Regions from separate parts of the Homo sapiens genome. Here regions 1, 3 and 4 are each reported to be linked to region 2. The links are microRNA targets in miRTarBase. Many come from high-throughput screens and were not tested one by one. Region 2 holds a microRNA gene; each other region holds the end of a gene's coding sequence.
Evidence for each region. Region 2 holds the annotated microRNA hsa-miR-4324 (CCCUGAGACCCUAACCUUAA, at 2,631-2,650, opposite strand). A microRNA usually pairs through its seed, bases 2 to 8, with sites in the 3' UTR of a target mRNA and lowers its output. Matches are read on the target gene's strand: a 7mer-m8 pairs with bases 2 to 8, a 7mer-A1 pairs with bases 2 to 7 and ends in A, and an 8mer does both.

Region 1: the mRNA of RILPL1 is a reported target of hsa-miR-4324. Seed matches in the 3' UTR shown: 7mer-A1 at 2,536-2,542.
Region 3: miRTarBase lists ORMDL2 as a target of hsa-miR-4324. Seed matches in the 3' UTR shown: 7mer-A1 at 2,822-2,828 and 7mer-A1 at 2,710-2,716.
Region 4: miRTarBase lists TMEM198 as a target of hsa-miR-4324. Seed matches in the 3' UTR shown: 7mer-m8 at 3,334-3,340.

The regions. Positions count from the first base shown.
Region 1 is chr12:123,468,657-123,473,820 of GRCh38, forward strand. It overlaps RILPL1 (Rab interacting lysosomal protein like 1), which reads right to left. Exons shown (of 7, transcript NM_178314.5): 7 at 1,398-4,026. The coding sequence ends at 3,882. It also overlaps a transcript of SNRNP35 not described here. Among named protein-coding and RNA genes, the nearest start is that of SNRNP35, 13 kb to the left of the region's middle. RefSeq lists a silencer at 146-440.
Region 2 is chr19:49,306,177-49,311,340 of GRCh38, forward strand. It overlaps MIR4324 (microRNA 4324), which reads right to left and starts at 2,692; the gene lies at 2,621-2,692. SLC6A16 (solute carrier family 6 member 16) reads right to left here. Exons shown (of 12, transcript NM_014037.3): 2 at 4,757-5,164; 3 at 4,177-4,334; 4 at 3,864-3,990; 5 at 3,475-3,650; 6 at 3,125-3,235; 7 at 2,700-2,941.
Region 3 is chr12:55,819,299-55,824,462 of GRCh38, reverse strand. It overlaps ORMDL2 (ORMDL sphingolipid biosynthesis regulator 2), which reads right to left. Exons shown (of 4, transcript NM_014182.5): 3 at 4,970-5,121; 4 at 2,584-4,203. The coding sequence ends at 4,068. It overlaps DNAJC14 (DnaJ heat shock protein family (Hsp40) member C14), which reads left to right. Exons shown (of 7, transcript NM_032364.6): 3 at 955-1,061; 4 at 1,274-1,393; 5 at 1,731-1,891; 6 at 1,988-2,090; 7 at 2,276-3,478. The coding sequence ends at 2,486. Among named protein-coding and RNA genes, the nearest start is that of ORMDL2, 3.8 kb to the right of the region's middle.
Region 4 is chr2:219,548,173-219,553,336 of GRCh38, reverse strand. It overlaps TMEM198 (transmembrane protein 198), which reads right to left. Exons shown (of 5, transcript NM_001005209.3): 4 at 3,983-4,185; 5 at 2,742-3,620. The coding sequence ends at 3,483. It overlaps OBSL1 (obscurin like cytoskeletal adaptor 1), which reads left to right. Exons shown (of 21, transcript NM_015311.3): 17 at 313-469; 18 at 640-801; 19 at 1,121-1,225; 20 at 1,539-1,808; 21 at 2,495-2,609. The coding sequence ends at 2,502. MIR3132 (microRNA 3132) reads left to right here and starts at 4,190; the gene lies at 4,190-4,264. RefSeq lists enhancers at 1-202, 203-703 and silencers at 492-581, 802-961.

The DNA of each region.
Region 1 (5,164 bases), not on the chromosome of region 2:
TCCAACCTGGGTGACAGAGTAAGACCCTGTCTCAAAACAAAAAACAAAAAACTTGCACACTCAGACTCCAACCCTGTACATTTGGGCTTAGTGTTCTATGGGCTGTGGTGACTTTGAAAGAAAAACAATGGTACAGCCTCCATGGTAGGGACTTTGGCAGTCTCCATGAACATGACAGAAGCAAATACTCTTTGATCTAGCAATTCTGCTTCTAGTTTATTCTGTAGACTTTTGTGTGTGTGACAGTGTGCAACACTTTTTGAGAGTAAAGGATTGGAAGGAAGCTACCTGTCCATCAGTGGGGCCTAGATAAACATTAATAAATATCACCCCCATATGGTAGACCAGGGCATTGTAGGATGTTCATTAGCACCTTCCTTGGTGTCTACCCATAGATGACAGTATCCTCTCTCCCCCTCCAGTTGTGACAATCAAAAATGTCTCCAGACTGCCAAATGTCCCCTGGGGGGCTCAGTCATCCGTGGTTGAGAGCCACTGTCTTTTCTTTTTTTTTTTGAGACAGAGTCTCGCTCTGTCGCCCAGGCTGGAGTGCAGTGGTGCGATCTCCGCTCACTGCAAACTCTGCCTCCCGGGTTCAAGCGATTCTCCTGCCTCAGCCTCCTGAGTAGCTGGGACAACAGGCGCATGCCCCCATGCCCAGCTAATTTTTGTATTTTTAGTAGAGATGGGATTTCTCTATGTTGGCCAGGCTGGTCTCAAACTCCTGACCTCATGATCTGCCTGCCTCAGCCTCCCAAAGTGCTGGGATTACAGGTATGAACCACTGCTCCTGGCCATGAGAGCCGCTGTCTTATGTACTCATATGGAGTTATTGCTATACATTTTTTTTTCTTTTTTGAGGCAGGGTCTCACTCTGTCCCCCAGGCTGGAGTGCAGTGGTGTGATCACAGCTCACTGCAGCCTTGAACTGGGCTCAAGGGATCCTCCTGCCTTAGCCTCCCAAGTAGCTGAGATCATAGGTGTACACCACCACACCCACCTATTTTTTTATTTTAATTAATTTTTTGTAGAGGTGGGTTATTGCTATGTCACCTAGGTTTGTCTTAAACTCCTGGGCTCAAGTGATCCTCCCTACTTGACCTCCCAAAATATGGGGATTATAGGTGTGACCCACTGCACCTTGGCCCTCTCTAGGATATTTCAAGGGGAAAAAAGAAAAGCACAGAACAGCATGAATATATTATGCTGCCATTTAAATAAAAAAAAAAAGGAGGGCCAGGTATGGTGGTTCATGTCTATAGTCCCATCTACTCGGGAGGCTGAGGCAGGAGGATTGCTTGAGGCCAGGAGTTTGGGACCAGCCTTGGTGACATAGTAAGACCTTGTCCCTTAAGAAAAAAGGAAAGAAGGAATATATACACACATGTACATATATATATGCTTTTTGTTCTTGATTTTATTTTACATAATTGCATGTATAAACTTTCTGATGGATTGATTTTTCCTTTCTGTCCCGATTATCTAGCCTCTGATGTGCTCAAGAGCTGGATCTGCTGACTTATCAAAAAAGTGACATTTGGCCAGGCACGGTGGCTCACACCTGAATTCCCAGCACTTTGGGAGGCTGGGGTGTGAGGATCACTTGAGCCCAGGAGTTTGAGACCAGCTTAGGCAACAAAGTAAGACCTGGTCTCTACAAAAAATAATTAGCTGGGCATGGTGGTGCACATCAGTAGTACCAGCTACTTGGGAGGCTGAGGTGGGAGGATTGCTTGAGCCCAGGGGTTCATAGCTGCAATGAGCTATGATAGTGCCACTGTACTCCAGCCTAGGTGACAGAGTGAGACCCTGTGTCCAAAAAAAAAAAAAAAAAAAAGGCCAGCCACAGTGGCTCACACCTGTAATCCCAGCACTTTGAGAGGCCAAGGCAGGTGAATCACTTGAGGTCAGGAGTTCGAGACCTCGAGACCAGCCTGGCCAACATGGTGAAACCCCGTCTTTACTAAAAATACAAAAATTAGTCAGGTATGGTGGCACACACATGTAGTCCCAGCTACTTGGGAGGCTCAGGCATGAGAATTGCTTGAACTCAAGAGGCGGAAGTTGCAGTGAGCAGAGATGGTGCCACTATACTTTGGCTTGGGCAATAGAGCAAGACTATCTCAAAAAAAAGAGAGACATTTAGTGTTTAGGAAAGATAACCAAGAAACTGGCAATTTTGGTTACCTGTTGGAAGGGCAACAAAGGTGGCCAGGGGTGGGAGAGAAATTCATCAGTATACCTGCTTCTATACTCTTTGAGAATAAATTCTAATAATTCTAATGGGCACTCAGGTTTGAGAAACACTGCTCTAACGCAGCAATAATTACCCTGTCTGATCATTTCTTTTTTTCGGCAATCTGGAAGCAGAGTCCATTCTAGATTCTGCAAATTCACCTGATGGTTTCTTTCTTTCTTTTTTTTTTTTTTTTTAGATGAAGTCTCACTCTGTCGCCCAGGCTGGAGTGCAATGGCACGATCTAGGCTCACTGCAACCTCTGCCTCCTAGGTTCAAGGAATTCTCCTGTCTCGGCCTCCTGAGCAGCTGGGATTATAGGCATGCACCACCTCGCCTGGCTAATTTTTTTGTATTTTTGTAGAGATGGGGTTTCACCGTGTTGGCCAAGCTGGTCTCGAACTCCGGACCTCAAGTGACCCACCTGCCTCGGCCTCCCAAAGTGCTGGGATAGCAGGCGTGAGCCACTGTGCCCAGCCTCACCTAATGGTTTCTTAGCAAACTTCAGTAGAATGTTTAGAACGCGGCCCTGATAAACTTGAGTGCTGGTAGGAGGTGCTACCTCGCTCAATCTGTGAGCAACCAGCCCTGTGCCCTGGATGCTTGGCGGGTGGAGAGAAAGACAGTGTTATGTGGGCAAGCCTCCAACTCACCAGTTGCAGTAGAGCATCTGGCTCTCTGTCTGCTGCTATAGCCCTGTGAGTCAGCCAGACGTGTGGTCCCCAAGCCAGCTTCCCACCTAGCACCCTTGTTCTGCTACAGCTCCCCCACCTGCCCTCCTGCATTGCCTAGGATCCCACGCCCCGCTTTCAGTCTGCTCTGGGACATCTGTCTTCTTCTTTGCAGGGGACTAAGTATATGACTTAATGAATCCTAAAAGGAAAAAAAGATGTCAGGAAAAAAAAGTGCACACAAGAAATGTTGCAACATCTCATCCTTAGCAACTTTGTTTGGTTAGTACTGCATAACTCACAGCAGATTCCAAGGCACCTGCCTTGAACATTGCTACATGCTCTAGGCATTATCAGGAACGCAGCCAGGGTGCCTGCAAAGTTGTCTCCAGTTTCTGGGTAAGAGGACCATCATCCATATTGTCTGTGGCTTTGTGTCTGAGTTGGGCTACTGAGCCTGTGACTTCAGACCCCTTGTCTGCCTGATGGATACATTCTGTATAATACGTTACCATCACAATTTCATGAATGTAACTAATGAAGATCTAGCCCTTCCATGCCTCCTGCTGAACTATGTCACCTGTGATAATAAAACCTCTACACATAGCATTTTATACAAAGCAAGTCAAACAGCAATGATAGTGGCAAGTGATGTATTTGGCTTAAAGAAGCTTGTGTTACTGAAGTTAACGCAGAAGTCTGGCCTCCGTTTGTGGGATTATTAAATATATATCCTACGGGATCAGAGTCATCTATTAGAAACAGTGATAGCCCTGGGTATAAATAAACATTTCTTTAGAGTTTGGCGTCAGTTTTTCAATGTCCATCCTCAAATCAGACAGTCTGTTTGAGGGGTCAGTTTTCAGGGTGCATCTGCACCGAGAGGCTTGAGGCAGCAATGACCCCTGGGCTGCAGTTCGGTTGCAGGCGCTGGTGGCGGGCAGTCCAGGTTGGAGGGTGGAGATGGGCCAAGGTCACAGATGCTGCAGGGCTTCCTGTCCTTGCTCTGTGTAACCGTCATCGCGGTGGGTGTTTGCCCACTGTCCAAAGGACTCCTGGATGTGCACGTTTCTCTGTGTGTTGGCCAGGCGCTTCTTATCTCGGGAGAAGAAGCTAAACCTTTGGAAGGGAAAGCAAACACAGAAATGAGAGCTGACCCTTTGCTGTGCAAGTCACGTTTTTTGCAATGCCGGAGACATATAGCAGCAAACTTAGAAGGGAGCAAATCAATTCAAGGTGTGAAAGACAAAGTTGGGGGTGCAGGTCAAAGTTATTCCAAGAAAGCAGCAGGGTATTCTGCGTGTCATTTGGACACGGTACCTTGGAGGTCACGCGGTATGGGCAAGGCATGCATGCTGATGTGATGTGTGAGGTGTCTTCCACGTTAGCCGCTATGGAGGATTTATCCCGTTACCAGTGGAAATCAAAAGCTGCTGAAACAAATCTTGGGTTTCTTTAATTACCCTAATGACGCAGAGAAAGGAATACTTGAAAACCGTGTGGAATATAAGAGGATTCTGTTGTAAACGAATGAGTATTTCTAATTTAAATAGTTCTGTATTTGTTTAATGTCAGTCAGGAAACTGTGGCCCAGATTTCATGGACATTACTGCTTAGATGAGGCTAAAGGAAGTACTTAAGAAAAATGAACAATAAAACATATACTATGGGCTGAGCGCGATGGGTCACGCCTGTAACCCCAGCACTTTGGGAGGTCGAGGCAGGCAGATCACTTGAGGTCAGGAGTTCGAGACCAGCCTGGCCAACGTGGTGAAACCCCGTCTCTACTAAAAATACAAAAATTATCCAGGTGTGGTGGCACACGCCTGTAATCCCAGCTACTTAGGAGGCTGAGGCAGGAGAATCGCTTGAATCTGGGAGGCGGAGGTTCCAGTGAGCCGAGATCACGCCACTGCACTCCAGCCTGGGCAAGAGAACAAGACTCTGTCTAAAAAAATAAAATAAATATATATATATAAGTAAAACATGGTACGCATGGTTCTCTGATATAAAATTAGGGAAACATCCATTTGCACTTTCAAAAATAGATCTAATGGTGAAAGCCTTTAGGCCGTATCACTGTAACCAGCTACAGAGCCACAGTTAGTCTGGCCTCAGACTTTAACTGAGGTAGACAGAGGTCTTTTTAAAACAGCTGTGACTGTTGCATATTGATCAGAGAGAGCCATCAGGAACTTTCAGATGCCTGAAAGATAAAGGCAGAAGTCATAAGCATACTTGAGTTTGTTACCATAGA
Region 2 (5,164 bases):
AATCCCAGCTACTTGGGAGGCTGAGGCAAGAGAATGGTGTGAACCCAGGAGGCAGAGGTTGCAGTGAGCCGAGATCACACCACTGCACTCCAGCCTGGGCAACAGAGCGAGAGTCTGTCTCAAAAAAAAAAAGAAAAAGAAAGAGCACAGATTAAAGTTATACACAATATGGATAAATATTGCAAACATGTTGGATGAGAAAAAGAAAGCACAAAAGTAAGCAAAGAGAATGTATATATGAGGGAACAAATAACTAAACATATTGCTTTATATAAGTGGACAAATTATATTGCTTAGCTATGCATACATAGATGATAGAATATAAAGAAAAACATTAATCACTATCCTTAGTTCTTTGTTTTTTTTTTTTCTTTTTTTTTTTTTTGAGAGAGAGTCTCACTCTGTTGCCCAGGTGGAATGCAGTGGCACAATCTCAGCTCACTGCAGCCTCCACCTCCCAGGTTCAAGCAATTCTCCTGCTTTGGCCTCCTGAGTAGCTGGGACTACAGGTGTGTGCCACCACGCCCGGCTAATTTTTGTATTTGTTAGTAGAGATGGGGTTTCACCATATTGGCCAGGCTGGTCTCAAACTCCTGACCTCGTGATCCATCTGCCTCAGCCTCCCAAAGTGCTGGGATTATAGGCATGAGCCACCGCACCCGGCTTGTTTTTCTTTACATTTGATCATCTATGTATGCGTATCTACTAAGCAATATAGTAACCACTATCCTGACTTTTATGATGGTTACCTCTGGGAGGCAGTAAAGAGATTATGATTAGAAAAAGATACACAGAGAGCATCTAGGGTTATTCTAGTTCTTAATACAGGTGATGTTTACTTCACGGTTCGTTACACAGTGCATTGTTTTATACACTTTTTTTTTTTTTTTGTTAGAGGAAGGGTCTCGCCCAGCTGATTTCAAACTCCTGGGTTCAAGCAATCCTCCCACCTCAGCCTCCCTAAGAGCTGGCATTACAGGCGTGAGCCACTGCTCCCGGCCTTGTTTTATGCATTTTTCCATATGTAGGTAATAGCTCATAATAAAAGGTTTTTTTGAAAATACACAAAAAAACTACCATTACACTCCCACCAGACTGGAAACAATTTAAAAGTCCAACCAAGTTTAATCAAGTGTTGTGCAAAAAGTAGAACAAATGGAAGTCTCACACATCCCTGATGGGAGGGCAATGCATTACGCCACTTTGAAAACCAGACAATATATGATAAAATTGAAGGGGAGCACACCCTACTCAGCAATTCCTTTCCTAACTATATGCTGTCAAGAACTCTTGCACACGCACACATGTATATTCCCAGGCATCTTCTAGAAGAAAATGGTGGTTATTTGTGAGGGTTAGGGTTACTAGGAGAGGTCGGGCGCGGTGGCTCACGCCTGTAATCCCAGCTCTTTGGGAGGCAGAGGCAGGAGGATGGCTTGAGCCCAGGAGTTCAAGACCTGCCTGAGCAATATAGTGGGACCCTGTTCTCAAAAATTTAAATTAAAAAAAAAAAATCTGCTGGGAGAGAGAGGAAGAGGAGGAGGAAGCAAAAAAAAAGAAAAAGAAAAAAAAGAAAAAGAAAAAAAAAAGATTACTGGGAGAAATTCAACTCAGGGTTGCCTCCTCTGGAAGGCCCCATCTGACTAGTCCAGACAGAATTAATGGCTCTGTCTCCTGTCCTCACCCATCACTTCAGTTACCAGTTAGCACAAGTTTTTGGCTGTCTCATTCTCCTTTCCTTCCCCCTCCAAAATTGAAAACTTAATGAAACAAGGACTGTGGTCTGATTCACCTGTCCAAGTCTCTGTTGTATAGAAAGAACACTTCCTAAATGTCTGTCTGATGGATGTTTTTGGAATTAATGCCTAAAAATAAGAAAAATAAGAAACAGGGGTGATCAGACAATCAAGGTTCTAGTACAGAGAATCCTTTTGGAGTTTCTGCTAGATTGACAGAAATCCCCAATTCAGGAGTTAACAGTTAAGAATGGGGGCCTTAGGGCGCGGTGGCTCACGCCTGTAATCGCAGCACTTTGGGAGGCTGAGGCGGGCGGATTATGAGGTCGGGAGATCGAGACCATCCTGGCTAACATGGTGAAACCCTGTCTTTACTAAAAATACAAAAAAATTAGCCGGGCCTGGTGATGGGCACCTGTAGTCCCAGCTACTCAGGAGGCTGAGGCAGGAGAATGGCTTGAACCCAGGAGGCAGAGCTTGCAGTGAGCCAAGTTCGCGCCACTGCACTCCAGCCTGGGTGAAAGAGCGAGACTCCATCTCAAAAAATAAAAATAAAATAAAATAATGGGGGCCTTCTACTTCTCCATTTTTCCAAGGATGGCCTTGGAAGTCTCTGTGTGGTATGGTCTTGGATGGTATTTTGTTGTGTATCTGGGATTAGAGAAGCCTTCAATGTTTGCAATTTTTAGTACATCCCTGTTAGCATATCCACTCTGAGGTGGATAGCTGGCAATCTCTGAGTTTGAAGATTTATTTCTAGGGTGACAAAAGGCTCTGAGAAGGATAATATATGATAGGAGATTCTATTGTCTCCATTTTTAGCTATGGGGAAGGTAGAGGGCTTGCAAGTGCACCCAAGGTTGAAATGTGTGAACATGGGTCTTTGCAGCACCTTTAAGGTTAGGGTCTCAGGGTTTTAAAGTTCCCTGGAGCTGAGACCCTTAACAAAGGGGCCGGCCTTACCTCTCACAGCAGCGATGTGTGATGACTGTCGCCCAGAAGCCCAGGACACAGAAGTTGAAAGATGTGAAAACCAACAAAGTGAGCAGGTTTATCACAGACACGAGAAAGGCATCACTGAGACAGTTGTTGGACTGGGGCATGTAGGAGGCTAAGGAGGCAACGGAGCCAAGGCCTATGCCTGTGTTAGACAAAACTTGACCCCCTGCTAGAGACCACACACTCATATTGTACACATCCGATATCTAAAAGAGAGAAGACAAGCATAAGGGGGTTGTAAAAGAAGAAGCAGAGGACAACTATAATAGAAATGTTGCAGGGAGGAGAGAGGGAGATACAAAAGTAAAGAATGGGGAAAGGAAGCTCTAAGAATAGGCAGCTGTGGTGCCCTACAAGGCCTGACGGGGGAGTGAGGAGATAGATTTCACCTTGGCAACCACCAACTGTTGAAGGCCAAATTTTGCCCCTTCCAGGAGTAGAGTCCGGATGAAGAAACCGACAATGATGAAACAGGGGAGCAGTACCAAGACATAGATTACCTGAATCGAGAGTGGGACATATCAGCAACCGTGTACCAGTAGGGGTCAACCAACAGTTAGGAGGGATCAAAAGTTCTGAGTCAGAAATGAGTAGGAGTTAGAAGAAAGCCTTCAGCAAGAGTCAGGGGCTAGGGGAGTAAAAGCCAAAGGAGTAAGAGATTAGGAGATCAACAAGTAACAAATTGAGGTAAGGGCTAAAGCATCTGAGAATTTCAAGGAATCCAATACTGGTGGCTCACCTTCCCAGTGGACTTGAGCCCATTGATCATGAAAGCACCAACAAGACACCAGCAAAGAAAGAAGGGCAGGACCAGACTGTAGACTGGTGACCCGCCATCCTCGATTCTGTCTGAGGCCTTCAAGGCCTGCTGGTACCAGAAGTATATGGAGGGTGTTGTCCGTTCACATTCAGGATCTGGGGGGACCTGGCTTTAGACATGCCTGCTAGACAAGGTACCCCCTCTTCTTCCTTATCCCCTCCCCCACCTCCCTTTTCTCTTTCCCTCTCCCATTTCTTTTTCCTTCTTCTTCCTCTTCCTTGTCCCTCCCCACTCTCTCCTATTCCAAATTCCCTTCTACTTCTACTTCTCCATTTTTCCCTTCTCCTCTTCTTTCACTTCCTCCTCACCAAAGCCACTAGAGTTCATCGTTAAGGGACATTTCTCCCATGGAACGGGAAACTGGAAGGACTGGCTCATGTAGAAGATGATCCAGGAATTGACCACATTGAAGTACAGGCCGAGGATGAAGCACACCTGGGGGCCAAGGAGGATATGGCTGGGGAGGAAGAGCAGGGACAGGAAAAGGGAGGGGATTTGACAGAGGATTGGGGAACCAAAGGGATCTGACCCATGGAGGTATTCACAGGGCGCATTTCAGGAGGAGGGTTGGGATGGCGGTGGGGTGTAAAAGTCAGGCCTGGGCAGCCATGGGCTCCTCACCATGAAGCTAGAATACCCCACACCACCAATCCAGGGGGCAATGATCTTCCATACACCCATGCCACCCTGACGCATGCTCTGACCAGCTGCCATCTCCAGGAAGAGAAGAGGAACCCCGACCAGGAACAGCATGAAGATGTAGATGGCAGCGAAACTGCCTGTGAAGAAGATTCAGAAGGGACTCTGAGAACCATGTGGCCTTTCAGTGCCTGGACTCCAGGAGCCCAGGAAAACATTCTCCCTACCAGCGACCTCTTCCAGGGCCACAGGCATCAGGGCTCACCCATGTCTACATCCCTCACGGTCCCAAGTGTCCAGTCCTCTGGCCCCCAAATCCTGGAAGACCCAAGTACCTAGTTTCCAGCCCATCTTGGGCCCAGGCCTCCAGCTTTGCCATCCCCATGTTCAGATACCCTGAACCTCTCATGATCCTAAGTGTCCAGGGACCTGGCTCCTATCCTGCTCAGAGCACCAGGTCTTTAGTCTCTACATATCTCAGAAACATTCATGGTTAAAGCCTGGACAGGACTCTGTCCTGATTGCCCCTTGTGGACCCAGGTTTCCTGGTCCCCAGACTTACAGCCTCCACTGTTAAGCCACAGGTAGGCAAAGCGCCAGAGACAAGATGGCTTCATAGAGAAGCCCACCTGAGCCAGAATATACTCAGTTTTGCTGGACCAGAACGGACGGGCAAGGAGGACCTCACTCTCTTTCTTCTCTGTCATCTGCACCTTCTCATGCGTGGGTTTCTGGTTCAGGGCTGAGGCAGTTAACGCCTCCAATACAGAAATTTGCTTGGGCTGACTGGTCCTGGCCTGAGCCTCTGCAACCCGGGCTGCTGAAACTTGGGCCTCTGAGGTCCAAGATGTTGCAGACCGGGTCAATGAACCCTTGTCTTCCCACGTTTGACTTCCTGGGACACTGTCAGAAATCACTGTGCCAGTCCATGAGGTGTTTGCCAGCAAGGATGTCGAAGGCTGGGCCTCTG
Region 3 (5,164 bases), not on the chromosome of region 2:
TTTGGGGAATGGGGATGGGTACAATCAGGAAGCTGTAGGAAGAGAGGATATTACTTGTCTTGGAGAGAAGGCTGAAAAGTACATAAAGTCTCTGAGACCATGATATGCTATTTCATTTCTGGGACTGAAAGGCATATCACTGTAGGAAGTTTTGGATATGAGAATTTTCTAGTTAAAAAAGAGTTTCAAGATGTAACATCTTTGGAACTCTTATTTTATGACTGATACATGTGTGTGCCAGAGACCAACTGTCCCTGTTCATCTGGGATTGAGGAGTTTCTAGAGGCATGGGACTTTTTAGTGCTAAAACTGGGACAGTCTCAGGCAAACTGGAATGATGAATCCACCGTAGTACCTGATTCTTTGCTACATACTTCATATATATTCTTATTTAATCCTCCCAACAATCCATGATAGATATTCAGGCTGACATGATAGATAATCCCAACAATCCATGATAGATATTCATGATGGCACACGCCTGTAATCCCAGCACTTTGGGAGGCTGAGGTAGGCAGATCTCTTGAGGTCAGGAGTTCGAGACCAGACTGGCCAACTAGATGAAACCCCGTCTCCACTAAAAATACAAAATTAGCTGAGTGTGGTGGTGCATGCCTGTAATCCCACCTACTAGAGAGGCTGAGGCAGGAGAATTGCTAGAACCTGGGAGGTGGAGGTTACAGTGAGCTGAGATCGTGCCACTGCACTCTAGCCTGGGTGACAGAGCGAGACTTCATCTCAAAAAAAAAAAAAAAAAAAAAGATATTCAAGGTAATGTAGCTAATTATAACAGAGCCATGAATTGAACCAGATCTGCAGAGTCAGAGCAGTTAATCATTAAGCTACACTGACTCTTCAAAAGGGTGATGAAAGAGAACCCTTTGATATGAGAATAAATTCAAGGTGAGGAGAGGGTTGGAATGGATTTGTAATGAAATCTCTCTGTCTTGGTAGGTTCATCCTGACAAAAATCATCATCCCCGGGCTGAGGAGGCCTTCAAGGTTTTGCGAGCAGCTTGGGACATTGTCAGCAATGCTGAAAAGCGAAAGGAGTATGAGATGTAAGTTGGAGATGGGAAATCATCAGATAATGGTAAATGAAAAATCCTCAATAGCAGAGGCATCTGGACTTGGGGGTGGAGGCTTGTTGAGATGGAGAGAACTGAAGTCACTTGTCTTTCTCGCTAGACAGGGGCCTCAAGAGGCCAACTGATATGTCTTCCTTTGTCCCTCCCTCAATACCTTCTGACTTACAAAGCATTTCTTCTATTAGGAAACGAATGGCAGAGAATGAGCTGAGCCGGTCAGTAAATGAGTTTCTGTCCAAGCTGCAAGATGACCTCAAGGAGGCAATGAATACTATGATGTGTAGCCGATGCCAAGGAAAGCATAGGTATGAAATAGAAGGAGAGGGATGGGACAATCACAGCTCAGGGATTATGTAACCAAGGATCTTTCTAGTGAGTACTGGTAATTATGAGTTACATCTGTATCTCATAATTAGTAAAAAGACCCTTAAGTTTCTACCTTTGTCATATTGTCAATAGACTGACGATTTTAATTAGCACTAAGAAACATTAGCTTTAGGATAGAACGTTGAAGGGATATGAAATACTAAGTGGGGTAATTTTAGATGTTTCAGCCCTATTTGTGAATAATGGTAAGACTACTAGCAGTGCCCTAGGTAGGCTTGACAAATTATTAAGGAACTATCCTTTTGTTGGTTGCAGGAGGTTTGAAATGGACCGGGAACCTAAGAGTGCCAGATACTGTGCTGAGTGTAATAGGCTGCATCCTGCTGAGGAAGGAGACTTTTGGGCAGAGTCAAGCATGTTGGGCCTCAAGATCACCTACTTTGCACTGATGGATGGAAAGGTGTATGACATCACAGGTACTCTCTGTCCTCTAGAAATACAGGCTCATACTTCCTGATCTTTTATGTGCTCTAAACTGCGACGTTTTGGCTAATTATTTCTCATGTTTATAGAGTGGGCTGGATGCCAGCGTGTAGGTATCTCCCCAGATACCCACAGAGTCCCCTATCACATCTCATTTGGTTCTCGGATTCCAGGCACCAGAGGGCGGCAGAGGTAGGTGGTATTTCTGTCAATAATCTATCCACTATTTCAGTTTTGAATACGGTTTCAGATGACCTGCTTTTTAGGACACCCAGGGGCCTTGTTTTCTAGGAAGTTTGGGAACTGATAAGTATATCTAACTTAGGTAACCATATGACTCTAACATCTCTTGCCTTATTTCTTCTGTTTTACCTCAGAGCCACCCCAGATGCCCCTCCTGCTGATCTTCAGGATTTCTTGAGTCGGATCTTTCAAGTACCCCCAGGGCAGATGCCCAATGGGAACTTCTTTGCAGCTCCTCAGCCTGCCCCTGGAGCCGCTGCAGCCTCTAAGCCCAACAGCACAGTACCCAAGGGAGAAGCCAAACCTAAGCGGCGGAAGAAAGTGAGGAGGCCCTTCCAACGTTGATGCCCCTTCTCTTTCCTCAAATCAATGTCAGGGAGTCAAAAGGGCTGTAGCACAGGATGGAGTTTGATTTATCCCTCCTCCCCCAACACCTAGGAACTGAATCTTTTTCTTTTTATTTTTTGAGATGGAGTCTTGCTCTGTTGCCCAGCTGGAGTGCAGTGGTGTGATCTCAGCTTACTGCAACCTCTGTCTCCCGGGTTCAAGCAATTCTCCCATCTCAGCCTCCTGAGTAGCTGGGATTACAGGCACACACCACCACACCTGGCCCAGCTAATTCTTTTTTGTATTTTTAGTAGAGACGGGGTTTCACCATGTTGCCCAGGCTGGTCTCGAACTCCTGAGCTCAGGTGATCCACCCGTCTTGGCCTCCCAAAGTGCTGGATTACAGGCATAAGCCACTGTGCCCGGCCTGAATCTTGTCTTTTGACAATACCAAAGAAATAGGGGGTAGCTAGAGTAAAGAACCTAGGGCCTGGACCTGGGCTGGACAGTGTATCCCTTTAGGTGTGGGAACTGGGTATTTCCCTGGGGTCTGTATGCCTTTGTCTTGTCATTTGCTTTTAGGGCAGATGACACTTTTTCCCACCCTTTTAAAGCTACAAGTCTATCTTCTTTCTTGACCCATTTCAGGAGGGAGCCCTCTCCTTTATCCTGATATAATATTTAAAAGAGAACAAGAAAGCATGTAGCCCTAATGATAGGAGATTATCGCATAGAGTTCAGAGACTGGAAACTGAATTTTCCCTCGACTTTCACTTTGTGGGTAAATCACCCAATTTTAGGCTCTTTTCTGCAAGGATGGCCAAAATTAATCATTTTTAAAAAGTAGATTCATGCCCACTGCCCTTGGGTGAGGGGGAAGAATACGGGGGTTCCCAGAAGCCCCCATGTGATCCAAGGGTTTGTATTTTTTTTTTAAGTTTGTTCATATTTGTATGTACATGACTATTTAAAGCCAGGGGATTATCTTTCTATAAATGTATAACTGGCAACCTGTATCTTCCCTCTTTGTTGCCCATATAGCCGGAGCCCTTTTTCTCATTTGAGAATCTCTTCCCTACTAAGTGTTAAGCTTAGAGTGAAGGGCACCTCCTACTGGACCAAAGGAGAGGGGATTGGAGAATTGTTTTAAGTTTTATACATTAGGTCAGTATTCCATCTTCCCACCCCCAGCCTTATGAGGACAGCTCTCTACCCATCCTGATTAAACTGCAGCTATAGCTGAAAAAAATTATTGTAAGAAAAATACACAGCAAAACAGAGCTGGAAGGTGGTAAGTGTAAAAGATATGGAAAGATGTAATCACCAAAGAAGCTGCCCAAATGGCTTCCTGCTATGGAGGAGAGTGATTTGGCCCTTACCTCACCTGCCTTCCTGATTCAAAGAAACTTGCCACTAGCAGGACTGGGCCCAGGAGCCCCATTTGCCAATCTCTTCTCTTCTTGGGAGTCTGGGAAAGGTTGTATAGTTCTCAGGCTTTAAAGGTGTAGAAGACAGTATGGAGAATAAGAGAAGGATGTTTTATAGTCCTCTGTTTCAGTGCCTTCCCCATGCCCATGGAGCTGTCCCAAAACCCATCCCTCAGTATTTGTTGATGCCAAAGACACGAACCCCATGGAACTGGGGCAACTTCGGCAGCAGTACACTTAGCAATGAGGCTGTGTTGATGAGGAAGTGCGCAGCATCATACTTGGTATAGAAGCTGGCCAGGAGATAGCTGGGGAGAGAAAAAAATAGGGTGAGTGAGGTTGACCTTCTCTATCCATATTCTTTTTTTTTTTTAAGAGACAGTTCTCACCATGTTTCCCAGGTTGGAGTGCAGTGGCTATTCATAAGTGTGATACGTGCAGTACAACCTCAAACTCCTGGGCTCAAACAATCCTTCTGCCATAGCCTCCCAAGTAGCTGGGACTCCAGGCATGCACCACAGTGCCCTGCTCTTTCTCTTCTATTTTAAATGACCAGTTTTACTGTATATAGTTCTAGATTATCTAAAACTATTCCAGCTATATCAACAGCATTTACTTTGGGGTTCAGGAGATAGCACCCTTAACTGGAGACTGTAAGTCAGTATCTGTTAATTGTTAATGACATGGCAAATGACGGCTCAAGCTATTTCAGTCTGTATGACTGTTACAGTCCTCTTTGCTTCCACTCCCTACAGTGTTTTTGAAGATTAATATCAGTTCTGCCTTTATTTACTTCTTTTGGCAGTGTAAAATCATTTGGTTTTATTTGGCACTTATCTTTTCTCAGTCCCTTCATTTCCTTACTACCAAGGAGGCAGCAAGGAATGCTTGATTACAGTATTGACTGTAATCTACATTTTACTGCTCTCTGTAGGCTTAGAACTAGTATACCATAATATCTTCAAAGGGTTTTAGATGAGAAGTCTGCTTTTTAACAGCTTCCCTATGGGCCTTTCTACCTGGCTCTTGGAGCTCTTTCTAACCCAGCATATCTCATTTCCCCCATAGACTCACAGCACAATAGGAGAGATGCTGAGGAACTTGCGGGAAGAGGTAAACTGGAGCCCATAGTCCATTTGCTCCCAGTGTGTCAGTAGCCGAGCCTTTCCTTGGTCAGGAGTCTCAAAGGGTGTCCCTTTCACCGTATGAAGGAAGACATACGTAGCCTGGGAACAGGGAAGGTGGCAGTGTGAGGGGCAGAAAGTAGTT
Region 4 (5,164 bases), not on the chromosome of region 2:
GAGCCCATATTCGAATCCAGGTTTGCCTAACTCCAGAATCCGTGCCCATGTCCCCTGTGATCGATACCTGGCTCTGGGCTTCCCGAGTGCCTTGGCGGCCCTAAGGTCCCCAAAGGGTGACGCTTTTTCAAAGAGGCTCCTGGCACGACCCCAAAGGCTTGGGGACAGTCCGACCCCAGCCTGGGAACACGAGACACGCATAAACGCGCCTCGAGACCGCTTGGCATCAACAAAGGGTGCGCCGCCTGCCAGGGCCGGGGTCGCCTGTGCCCAGCCGGGCTCGCCCCGACCCTCTGCAACTCCCGCCCCTAGGACGGGAACGCGCTTACGCCTAGCCCGCGGCTCCGGCTCCAGGCCCTCGGCACGCGCCGCCTTCTCCAGCTGCGACGCTGCGGCCCCTCGGACGCCGGGACCTACAGCTGCGCGGTGGGGACGGCCCGCGCCGGACCGGTCCGCCTGACCGTGCGCGGTGGGTACGGGGTGATGTGGAGGCTGGGCACTGCTTTGGGCGCGAGACTTGCGGAGCTGTCTTCCCCGGACCCTGATGACCGCGCGTGCTTCTAGAAAGGGGGCGTGGAGGGGGCGTGACCGGTAACTGCCCTCTGCCCCGCCCCGCTCACGCCCCGGGCTCCGCCCCAGAGCGTACTGTGGCGGTACTCTCCGAGCTGCGGTCGGTGAGCGCCCGCGAAGGCGACGGCGCTACGTTCGAGTGCACCGTGTCGGAGGTCGAGACCACGGGGCGCTGGGAGCTCGGAGGCCGCCCGCTGAGACCCGGAGCCCGCGTCCGCATCCGACAGGAAGGTCTGCCCGCCTGGTTACCCTTTCGGGCCCCTCGCTGCCCCGCCCAGGCTCGAACAGATCCCGCCCCACCGGGACAAGCCCCGCCCCTGGCTCCGACGGGCCCCGCCCCACGGCCCTGTGAGCCTCGTCCCTGTTCTTTCCCCCGCCCCCAGCCCCTAGTCCCGGACCTCTAGGCTTCCCGCTCCGCATCCCTGTTCCGCCCACCCTAGCATACACTAACGGCGTCCGAACCGACCCAGGGGCCTGCTGGGCCCCCACCTTCGTCCCCAACGCTCCTCAGAGGTGGCTCCGGCCTCGCTAGCGACCCCCTCACCCCCAGGGAAGAAACACATTCTGGTGCTTAGCGAGCTGCGCGCCGAGGACGCCGGTGAAGTCCGCTTCCAGGCGGGGCCCGCCCAGTCCCTGGCTCTACTGGAAGTGGAGGGTAAGCACCTGGGGTGGGAGCGACAGAGAGTGTACATCCTGTCTCTCCTGCCATGGGACTGACGGACTTGGGGCTGGCCCCAAGAACGCTGCCTCTCTCTTCCCTTCCCCCCGAGGGGCTCTCCTGGGCCGGGTCACAGAGGGCAGCGCGTTTCCCCGGCAAGAGGAGACTTTGGGTCTGAGGTGCAAGGGAACGGACTGGTGGCATAGAGGGCTAAGGCCAGGAGTGGAGACTTCAGGGAGGGAAGATGCATCTCTCCTCCTGGGGGCCATGCGTGTCCCTATTAACTTAAGCCCCCGCCCCCTACCCCCAGCATTGCCTCTCCAGATGTGCCGCCACCCCCCTCGCGAGAAGACCGTTCTGGTGGGCCGCCGGGCGGTGCTGGAGGTGACTGTGTCCCGCTCGGGGGGCCACGTGTGCTGGCTGCGGGAGGGGGCCGAGCTGTGCCCGGGAGATAAGTATGAGATGCGCAGCCACGGCCCCACCCACAGCCTGGTCATCCATGACGTTCGACCTGAGGACCAAGGCACTTACTGCTGCCAGGCCGGCCAGGACAGCACCCACACACGGCTGCTGGTAGAGGGTGAGTAAAGCCAACTGGGCAGCGGCAGGAGGGTGAGGGCGCCTGGGAGCTGATGGGTTAAGCCACACCTATGGGAGGCTTTCCAGAACTTGGGGTGGCAACGGGTCCTGGGATACGTAGGAGGTGGGGATGGGGGAGGGGAGGGGTAGAGCACACCCAGGGCTGGAAAGCCCTGGAACTGCTTGGCTCAGATCAGCTGCTCCTGGTCAGCTGTTCCCACCTTTCTACGCCCCTTCTTGCCAGGCTTCTCCTCTCTCCTGCCACTGGACCATGTTTGTCTCTCTTGAACAGCCCTGTTTCTACCAGTTCCTTTCCTCCCCACTTCACCAACACTGCCTTCCTCCAGCCTGTCCCTCCTCCTTCCTGCCCTCTGCCCAGCTTGCCTCTGCCCATCTCAGCAAGTTCCATGTCAGCCTTGGCAGAAGCCTCTTTCTTTCCTCTTCCCCATAAGAGACATCCCACCTTCTATCCCAAATCCCAGCATTCCCTTCAGGTGCCGCGCTGTGCCCCACCCCTAGCTGACCCCCACCTTCCTGCCGCCAAGACAGCCCTAACCAAGGCCCAGAAAGGGTAGGGCAGAACCTGGGGGCCCAGCTCTTTGTGTACTGGTGTCCAGGCTCTGCCAGGGGAGAGGAAGGTGGTACCCCCTTCTCTCCCCAGCCCCATGTGGAGTCATTCCTCTGCAGGCAACTAGGAGAACCTAACCAGGCCAGGCGGGTGCCCTTGGACAGCTTGGAAGGCGTTTGCCCTTACCCTGGGCAGGGGTAGAGAGACAAGGAACAATAAAAGTGCTACAGCTCATTTCCTTGCCTCTCTGAGTGATGTGGGGGGGCAGACCTTGCCTGGAGCCCCTGTGCAGTGAGCGACACTGGGGACCGAGGGCTGTAGTGCTTGTACCTGGCCCATGAAAGTGCCAGCCACCAAAGACCACCATTCCTGGCAGAGGCCACACAGTTTGGCACATTTATAAAAGATGTAAAACAGAGTGGGGTGGGGGAGACAGAAGCATGAGGTGTCTAGGTTGGCATGACAGACACCAGACATGCACCGTGCATTTAAACCCCTCCCCAACTCCCTTCCCAACCCAGCCCAGAGCAGCACCCCCCCACCCCCATCTCCTGCCACTGCCCTCAGGCTGGTGGCTTTACAGAGGCCAGGGGACCAGGGTGAGGGATGCTACAGTTTGCCCCATAGACAAGGACAAGAACCCTTAGATGAGTCTGGCTGCGAGGCAGGGCGATGGGAAGGAAGGTAGCCCCTCCGCGGAGACATGCAGGAGGTGGCCCATGGGACCTTGGCAGGGAGTGAAGAGGTGGGGCTGAGCCTGGAGAAACCCTACCAGTCAGAAATCTAAGGCAAGGGTCCCAGCGTCCCCTCCAAGCCTGCCCACCCCCACACACATACACACAGACACACGGGCAACACACTCACAACCCTGAGCACACCCCAATGGGGTTCACACCCCGAGTTCCTCAGGAGCCTCTTGGGAGCTTGGGAGGGGGCTTTCCTCTCAGGCCAAGACTCGCCTGAGACAATCCTCCCTTCTAGTGACCAGGCCAGCCCTCTCCAGGCTGGGGAGAGGGACAGCCAAAGCCAGGAGGCTGAGTGGCAGCCTAGCAGGCCTCCTCGAGCTGGCAGAGCTGGTGACTGCAGAGTCTAGACAGACAGATATGGCTATACCCGCACTGGGGGGCCTGAGCAGGCTGTCAGAGGTCCCCGGGACCCATACTCATAGTCCGCATCTGTGGGTGAGGCCATGAAGGAGCTCAGGGAGCTCCCGGTCTGCCGGTCTCGGAAGCTCTGGATATAGCTCTGTGGGGGAGCAAACATAGGTGTGAGTCCCACCGCAGAATCCTGCCCTAAAAGCCACCTCTTCCTGAATTCCCACAAGCCTGACACTTCTATAGACTGCCATAGACCCAGAGTCCACAGCCCTGAGACCCCACCACATACCATATCCCACTTAAAACCCATACTCAGGAACCTTTCCCCCAATTCCCCCACCAGCTGGACCCGCCAAGCCCCTGGTGCATGGGCTCCGATGCATGGACAAACAGTTCATGGACAAACAGGCCTTCTAGATAGCAACCAGCCCGTGGGGAAAGCCCAGTCCTGTTTGGAAAGAGTTTCCACACTTCCTTCTCATTCTGGCTGGATGGGCTCAGGGAGCTCACCGGGGAGAGGACGTCTCCATTGAAGCGTTTGATGGGCACTGGCCTGCGCCGATAAGCAGGGTCTGGTGGCCCAGGCCTGGGAGGAGCCCGGGGACCTCTGAGGGGAGCCCGAGGAGGTCTCTTTTTCCGCCTTTTCTCCTTGCGATCTTCCTGCTGCCGAATCCGCATCAGTTGCACGCGTCGGCGCTGCCGGCTGATGACCACTGTGGTGGGATGGGTAGAGAAGGAGCTCAGAGGACGGTGCGCCTTGTTTCCCTTGAGCCCTCCCTCTCTCATCCCACCTGTGGCTCTAGGCTTCCAGATTCCTCTTGTCCATAACCCCTTACTCCCACCCTGTCACTTCCTTTCCTGGTCTCCTACCTCTCAGAGGAGACTTCCCGCTGTTGTTCTTTTCTTCCATAGGTCTTTATGGAAGGTTGCTAGGCTTCCAGGTACCCCCTTCCAGGCTGTCATCCCTCTCCCAATCACCTAGGCCAGCCATCATCATCTTTCCACTGGACAATCACAGCTGCTTCTTCACTGGTTTCCCCCTACACTTGCTCCCTCCAATGCTTTCTACACTCGGCAGCAGAATGAGCATCCCAAAAGCTAAATTAGATTCTATCCTCCCCTACTTTAAACTCTCCAGTGGTTTAAAGTCTTATTGCCCTTCTAATAAAATGTGGAGTGCTTCTTATGACCCAGAGGGTCCACGCAATCACTCTGGCTCCCACACCTCACCTCCCATACTCCTGCCCCACTTCCTCAAGCAAGCTGAGCTCATTCCTTCTCAGGGCCCTCGCCCTTGCTGTTCCCTCTTCTCTAGCTCTTTGCATGGCTGGCCCCTTAGCCTTCAAGTGCCTGCTTACATATCACCTCCTTCAAGCAGCCTTCCCTGACCACCCTAACTCTAATAGCTTCCATAGGTCATTCTTTCACATTATCCTGCACAATGTCTCTGTCATATCACTCTACACAACTGGAATCATGTTTGTTTGCATCTCTGTTATCTGTCTCCTGCCTGCCTTGAATCCATAAGGACAGGAACCTTGTCTGTGTTATCTCTGCTGTATCCCTGGTGCCTGGAATGGGGTTGGTGCGGAGCCAGCACTCCATATGTTGTTGTGGAATGAATGATGGCACCTGGGTGCTATCCTCCCAGACCCTGAGCAAGTCAGCTCTCTACCGCCATCGAGGCCTTCT